2 linked regions of the Homo sapiens genome follow. The protein of the gene in region 1 purifies or fractionates together with the protein of each later gene. This does not show direct contact. Each region holds a gene or a part of one and is shown on either strand. Other genes may lie near its edges.

Evidence for each region.
Region 2: the proteins of TMEM39B (region 1) and RAB33A purify together in Homo sapiens (affinity purification with mass spectrometry; one large-scale study listed by BioGRID and IntAct). This does not show direct contact.

What each region holds. Positions count from the first base shown.
Region 1 is NC_000001.11:32,071,678-32,076,047, forward strand, and holds the start of TMEM39B (transmembrane protein 39B), read left to right. Parts: upstream 1-1,261; 5' UTR 1,262-1,370; coding exon 1,371-1,374; intron 1,375-1,823; exon of another isoform or gene 1,824-2,195; intron 2,196-3,273; coding exon 3,274-3,400; intron 3,401-3,925; coding exon 3,926-4,145; intron 4,146-4,370. UniProt on the Homo sapiens protein: May protect the cells against DNA damage caused by exposure to the cold-warming stress and facilitates tissue damage repair during the recovery phase.
Region 2 is NC_000023.11:130,178,206-130,182,016, reverse strand, and holds part of RAB33A (ras-related protein Rab-33A), read right to left. Parts: intron 1-3,811.

The sequences.
Region 1 (4,370 bases):
GCATGGTGGTGCACGCCTGTAATTTCAGCTTGTTGGGAGGCTGAGGCAGGAGAATCGCTTGCACCCAGCAGGTGGAGGTTGCAGTGAGCCGAGATCGAGCCACTGCTCTCCAGCCTGGGCAACAGAGACTCCATCCCCTCAAAAAACAAAATAATAAAATAAATACACCCTCCTGCCTGAGGGACCTTGCACTAACTATTCCCTCTGCCTGAAATGCCCCCTTTCTCCAGAAATCTGCACCACTGACTCACTCATTTCCTTCATGTGTTTACTCAAGTCAACTCTGAAGCCTGCTCTGCCTGCCCTATTTAAAACTGCAACCCCATCCCCCTTTCCTGTTTTTCCTTCACACCATTCCCATCTAACATACTACAGAATTTACCAATTTTGTTCATGTCTATCTCCTCCCACTTGACTGTAAGCTCTATGACTATTAATGAAATATCTACTAATTCATTCAATTAATTGAATACTGCTATTAAGTGCCAAGCACTGTGCTAAGCAATGGAGCTACAAGATGACTAAAACTGCTTGTAGGTCTTGTGAGGGAAGAATCCTAATGACAATAAATGTAGCTCATTTAGTCAATGCTTCTCCAAACATCGTGATGGCTAATACTAAAACAGACTCAGTTCTGCATGCTCTATTTCATTTAACCCTCACCGAAACCTACACGGTGACCATCAGCAGCCTCATCGTAAAGCATAAAAAAACAAGATTGCAAGGCTGGGAAATGGCAGTCAGGATCTGAACCACGGTGTTGACAATGAGAACGGTGAGTAACGTCAAATGTGAGAAATATTTAGGACTTAGGCTCACAAAGACTAAGGCAAAGATCGGATGTGGGGGCCGAGGGAGGGAGGAAATGACTCCTGGATTTTGACTGGGGTGGACTAAAGCGCAGTGAGGCCTAAGAGAAGGATGAAGCGCAACGTGGGGCTGGGCTGGAGGTGCCTGCGGACCGGTCAGGGATATGGTCCACCCCTAGGGGAGCGGAGAGGCGGCTCCGCACCCTCCTCCGGTCGCCGCCGCCCCGGTCCAGGAGATGCTGAGAGAAGACACGCACGGGAAGAGCAGGAGGTGGGTTCCGTTCCCCTCCCTCTTGAGTCTCTTCACCAGCAGCTGCAGGAAGGGCGTGGGGGACCGAGAGACAAAGAGCGCGCAGGCACCGCCTCCGTCCGGGCGGCCCCTTTAAGAAGCGCGCGCCAGCTTCCAGCCCGCCTTGTATGCAAATGTAGCGGCGCGGCGGGAGCGCGCGGCTGATACCCGGGACTGGGCTGCGGCGGTTAGTCCTCTCCCGGCCGCCGTCGCCTCCGACATATTGCCCGCAGGAGCTGCGGCGGCGAAGCGGAGAGCACCGGGGGGAGGAGATGGGTGAGCAGAGCGGCTCAGGCTCGGCCTGGCAACGAGCGGGCGCACGGGTTAGGATGGCCAGGCTGCTAATTGCTGCTCCACGCGGACAGGAGCCCGGTGACGGGAGGGGGAGGGGATGCGAGCGCAGACGGGATCCCGCCCCCTCCTGTCGTTTTGCGGGGTGGGGCCTCTGTTGTGGGGGCGGGACATTGGACGGTGGGCGGGGCTTCTAAGACGAAGCCCTGTGGGGGCTTGGGCTTTCGTGAGGACCAGCTCGTCGGGGCTAGAAAGGGGGGCGGGACTTACCAGTGGGCGTGGCTTCAGCGCTAAGGGTGGAGATTCTGGGCAGGGGGCGCTAGTGCAGTCGGCGTTTCTGGGTTGGAGGGGTTACACTGGGGGCGGTGGAGCGGGGAGACTTCCGACTGAGGGAGCCCATTCTGGAGTGGGGCTTCTGGGCTGAGAGGGCTTTTATTGGCTTGTGGGCGGGGTTTCTGGGCTGACAGTTGTGTGTAGGCGGAGCTTCTGGGCTGAGGGGCTTTATGTGGGTGCAGAGCTTCTAAAGAGAGGAGAGTGGGTGTGGGCAGAGCTTCTGGACTGGACTAAGGGTGTTTGTGTGGGATTTTCTAAGCCAAGTATAACAGCGTATGAACAGAGCTTCTGGTCTGGGGGTTTATGGAGGGCAGAGCTCTTCGCCAGGTACTTTTTAGAGACTTGTGGAGGTTTATAATTTTGGGCATACATCCAAGCCCAAAATTGGCTCCGAAGTGTGGGAAACGCTTCCGAGCTGAGATGCTACGGCGTGGGGTGTATGTGAATGGAGGCTGCTGTGTTACTGTGAAGAGGTATGAACAGGTTATAACTTTTTAAAAATATGTATATGTATGTATATATATTTTTTAATAGAGACCGGGTTTCGCCATGTTGCCCAGGCTGGTCTCCAACTCCTGGTCTCAAGCGATCCTCCCGCCTCGGCCTCACAAATTGCTGAGATTACAGTCGTGAGCCACCACACCCAGTCAGGTTGTGACTTTTTTAGGTGCTTAGGAGCTTTGTGCAGAACTTTTGTGCGAAGTGGTGCGTGGGAGCTTGGGCTAGACTGCTCAGCCTAGTAGGTCCAATTTTTCAGTCCACAGCCACAGGATTCTCCCAGCCATATCCTTGACCCTTTATTTAGGCCCTGGGTCCTGCCCATGAGATCCCAGAATGCCCTTTGAGCTGAATCATGGGGCCCTGGATGAAAAAGCTGTCCCAAAGTTACCCAGAGTTATAGGCCTCCAGAAACTTATGTCTGAATGGGGCCCAATGTGTACCAGAGTTGAGAGCACACGACCCAGCCACGATACTGTGACATAGTGTAAGCTGAGTTTCCTAATGTGTGAAAAACCTACCTTGCTGGGTTCATTCACTCATCAACATATACTTGCTGGGCACTGAGGTAGGGGATATAGCAGTGAAAAAGATAAGGTAACTGACCTCATTGACCTTTCATTGTAATAGGACAGACAAGCAATAAGCATATTAACAAATGAGTAAGATAATTTCAGAGAGTGAATTCTGGTGGAAAAAAAGAATAGAAATTGGAGAGAGAGTGATGGGGAGTTACTTCAAAACTTCAGAAATGGCAGTCCGGGAAAGGCTTTCCAGATAGGATATTATAAGTGCTAGAGGTAGCAATGAGCTTGGCTTGCTGAGGAAAGAAAGATCAAGATGTTTAGAGCATGGGGCGGGTGGTAGAGGGTGGGTGTGAGGTAGAGAATGATAGGGGATGAAGCTGAAGATGTAAGAAGGGGCCAGATCATAGGTCTCAGTGAGGATTAAATGATAAAGTGAGATACTAGGTGACTGGCAGCTGGTATCATTGCTGTTATCCTTGATATATGCCCCCTGGCTTGAGGCTCTATTTTATGTTGAGCCCCACAGGAGGACGAAGAGGTCCCAACAGGACATCTTACTGTCGAAATCCGCTCTGTGAGCCGGGATCCTCGGGGGGCTCTAGTGGAAGCCACACTTCCAGTGCATCGGTGACCAGTGTTCGTTCCCGCACCAGGTAAACCACCTCTCTGTCTCACCCCTCACTGTGGCCTCACAGGGACGATGTGGACAGGGCTCTCTCTGACTGGATTCTAAGATGTGAAATCCTAGATGCCAGTGGGGGCTTAGAGGGGAGTAAGCAGCAGAAAAGATCCAGAGGGAGCTCAGTTGAGGGTGATCACTTGGACAGATGCAGTGGGACATGGTAGAATAAATCCAAAGGCCTGGATTCTAATTACAGTTCTGCTCCAGATTTGCTGATGGCTTGGACAAGTTGCCTCCCTTCTCTGGGCCTCCTTTTCCTCATCTGTAAGATGGACCTAATAATTCTTTCTCTCCTAGGGGGTGTTGGAAGACCTGAATAAGATTAGGGATAGGAAAAGGCTTTGTCGGGTTCCTTTGTCTGACAAGCAGGATTAGGAAGACCCCGTCCTTGCTATGAGCTGCTTTTCTGATCTTATCCCACAATCCTTTGCCTCAGAAGCCCTTCCTGGTAGGATTCTCAGGTCAGCTGCTGATGTTGTTCCCTCCCCACTGTCAGGAGCAGTTCTGGAACAGGCCTCTCCAGCCCTCCTCTGGCCACCCAAACTGTTGTGCCTCTACAGCACTGCAAGATCCCCGAGCTGCCAGTCCAGGCCAGCATTCTGTTTGAGTTGCAGCTCTTCTTCTGCCAGCTCATAGCACTCTTCGTCCACTACATCAACATCTACAAGACAGTGTGGTGGTATCCACCTTCCCACCCACCCTCCCACACCTCCCTGGTAGGTACCCAACAAGGGTGTGTGTGTGTGTGTGTGTGTGTGCGTGTGTGTGTATGTGTGTGTGTGTTTCTTTTGGTTTCAGTTTAGCATATCCTACTAAGCACCACTGTGCACTTGGCTCCATGCTGAACATGGAAGGTGCTGAAGGAACAGGAAACTGATGATTCACTGAATACTCCTAGTGTGTTTAGTAGCACATTGGGCACTGTAAGTGTATGGGAGATG
Region 2 (3,811 bases), on another chromosome or scaffold:
TTTAAAGAAAACAAAGTTAGTATTAAAATCTCACCTTCAAGCCCTATTTATTTATTTATTTATTATTTTGAGATGAGAGTCTTGTTCTGTCGCCCAGGCTGGAGTGCAGTGGTGTGATCTCAGCTCACTGCAACCTCCACATCCTGGGTTCAAGAGATTCTACCACTTCAGCCTTCTGAGGAGCTGGGATTACAGTCGTGCGCCACCATGCCCAGCTAATTTTTGTATTTTTAGTAGAGATGGGGTTTCACCATGTTGGCCAGGCTAGTCTTGAATTCCTGACCTCAAATGATCGAGCCTCCCAAAGTGCTGGGATTACAGGCGTGAGCCACCATGCCCAGCCTCCAATTTATTTTTAAGTTCACTTTTTGGTTATGTAAAAGGAACTTAATTCACTGGATTTTTCTTCTGTATCTCAGCTTTTGGGATAAAGGCCAAATTATGAAGAAAAAGCTGCTATCTGTAACATATGCAAAGACATAACTCCCAGGAGATATACATTCAGCCCAATCTATTTCCCTTTATATATCCAACGTCTTGGACAAGGGAGATTCATGCTCAGAATGATGGTCCCAAGGCCCTATACAATTCTCAGTTATCAAAGAAAATTTGATTATGGCCACTAATTGACTGCTATGGCTCTTAAAACGAAGTATAGCCTTTATTTGGAGTTAGCAGTCAGTAAGTATAATCTAGTAAATATAATTGAATCTGTCGGCTGAGTGAAGATTTTACAGGGCCCTAGAGTCATCATTCCGAATATCAGTTTTCATTGTCCAGGCTCCCCGTCATCTCCCTCTATTGACACAGCTTCCAAGTTCCTCTGGCAAGACCTTCAGATTGAACCCTTCTTCTATTCTGATTTCTGTGTCCCTCGGCCCTCGGCCAGCCTCTCCTCTCCTCACTCCTGGACTAGAGCAAAGTATTTTGGATTGTGGATGTTTCCATTGCAGGGTCTCCTGAACACTGCTCGCTTGCTTGCTTTTTTTTTTTTTTTTTTTTTTTTTTTGAGATGGACTGTTGCTCTGTTGCCCAGGCTGGAGTGCAGTGGTGCAATCTCAGCTCACTGCAACCTCCACCTCCCAGGTTCAAGCGATTCTCCTGCCTCAGCCTCCCAAGTAGCTGGGATAACAGGCGTGTGCCACTGCGCCTGGCTAATTTTTGTATTTTTAGTAGAGATGGGGTTTTGCCGTGTTGGCCAGGCTGGTCTCAAACTCCTGACCTTAGGTAACAAAAAAGTGAACTTAAAAATAAATTGGAGGCCAGGGCGCAGTGGCTCACGCCTGTAATCCCAGCATTTTGGGAGGCTGAGGCGGGCGGATCACGAGATCAGGAGATCGAGACCATACTGGCTAACACAGTTAAACCCCGTCTCTACCAAAAAATATAAAAAAATTAGCTGGGTGTGGTGGCAGGTGCCTGTAGTCCCAGCTACTCGGGAGGCTGAGGCCAGAGAATGGCATGAGCCCGGAAGACGGAGCTTGCAGTGAGCCGAGATGGTGCCACAGCACTCCAGCCTGGGCAACAGAGCTAAACTCCATCTCAAAATAAAAAATAAATAAATAAAAATAAATTGGAGTCTGAGTATAGTGGCTCACTCCTGTAATCCCAGCATGTTGGGAGGCCCAATCACTGCCGATCCACCTGCCTCAGCCCCTGAAAGTGCTGGGATTACAGGCGTGAGCCCCAGTGCCCGATCTCTGAATACTGGCTTTCTGACTAGCTTTAGTCAATCCCTGCTTGTATCAGCATGCCATTCACCTCTTCAGGAAACGACTGCAGCCCTCTACTGTATGTGGCATCACATGGATTCCACATGTGGAATTCTGTCTGCCATAATTTGACCCTTCCCAACCTGGTTTCAAACTACTCAGCTACACCTGGTTGATTCCCTCCTCTGTACTTTGGGTCATGCTAGTCCACTCCTCCCCTATAGAATCAGCTGCCCCCTCATTGCCCTATCCAAATCTCACCCATTCTTCAAGGTTAAGCTCACGCCTCAGGCTTCTTCCTCAAACCTTCGCCAACTTCCCTTCAATTCTCTTTTCTTAGGAATCTCTGTTGCACTTTGAGTCTGCATCATACCATTTTGAATAGATTTATGTTTTCTAATTGTCTCGTCAGTGCTCTTGGCATCTCTCCAGCAAGACTGTAAGCAGTCTTTTTCTGCATCAGACCACACTCGTCACTGAGGTTGTCATCATCATCATTATCAGCAGCAGACACATTATCAAAAGGCAGTGATGGCCTGAACCACTAAAACTACAAGCAGTCTGGCATCCTAGATATGTGCCAAGGGGATTTCAGAGAGAACGTCTGACTGTGATCACACAGAAAAAACATAAGTCCTCAAAGACTGATTTGCTTCTGCAAGCAAGAGACAGAAAATATTTTCATTTCTTCCACCTCTCCGTGGTGTTCCGAACAGGAAGAAAGGGAGAGCAGACCACAGGAGGAATGGAGGTCAGTAGGAAGACAGCAGGCATAGCCCAGGAATATCATTACCACTTGGCTCCTGATCCCCACTCCCCCCACCCCCCAGGAGTCTTCACTCTTGCCTTTTGCCTCTGAAGAAGTCTGAATCCCTACCAGCCCTCAGGCATGTGGCAGATGCTTTAACACCATGAGCTCAGGACTCTAAAAATACCTGCCACTAGCAGGAACACGGGTGGGAGTGTGTGAGGTGTTTGAGGCTGAGTGAGGTTGGCCATTTGGCTTTTCTTTGGCTTCATAATTGCGTATGCCGCCCAAATTGCCGGAACTGCCAGGAGGGCCCTCTCTGCTGGAGACCTCCTCTGTCTTTCCAACACTATTGGGAGCCTTGAAGCTTTTATTTGGAGGCTCCGAATTTAAACTGCAGGCACTGCTCCCTTCCAGCTCTTTGTAAACCCCACCCTGAGTTCTTTGCAGACGTGTCTGTCGTGAGAGGGGAGCCAGGAAGCAGGCTGCTCGCAGCAGAAAATAGAAGAACCAGTGGTGTGGCCTCAGAACCATCAGAAAGGAAGATCACAGCAGGCAGGCTCCCTAAACACATGAAATGATCTCATTAAAAAAAAAAAAAAAATCGCCGGGCGCGGTGGCTCACGCCTGTAATCCCAGCACTTTGGGAGGCCGAGGCAGGTGGATCACAAGGTCAGGAGATCGAGACCATCCTGGCTAACGCGGTGAAACCCTGTCTCTACTAAAAAATACAAAAAATTAGCTGGGCGTGGTGGTGGACGCCTGTAGTCCCAGCTACTCGGGAGGCTGAGACAGGAGAATGGCGTGAACCTGGGAGGCGGAGCTTGCAGTGAGTCGAGATGGCGCCACTGCACTCCAGCCTGGGCGACAGAGCAAGACTCTGTCTCAAAAATAAATAAATAAATTAATTAATTAATTTTAAAAAATCAGACATGGTCTCGCTCAGTCACCCAGGTTGGAGTGCAGTGGCATGATCTCGGCTCATTGCAGCCTCAACTTCCCCAGGCTCAGGTGATCCTCCCACCTTGGCCTCCCGAGTAGCTGGGACTACAGGCATGCACCACCACACCCGGCTAATTTTTGTATTTTTTGTAGAGATGGGGTTTCCCCATGTTGCCCAGGCTGGTCTCAAATTCCTAGGCTCAAGTGATCTGCCCACCTGGGCCTCCCAAAGTGCTGGGACTCTAGGTGTGAGCCACCACGCCTGGTCTCTTTCTCTCTCTCTCTCTCTCTCTTTTCCAGACAAGATCTCATTGTGTCACCCAGGCTGGAGTGCAGCAGTGCAATCATGGCTCACTGCAGCCTCAACCTCCTAGGCGCAAGCAATCCTCCCTCTTCAGCCTTCGGAGTA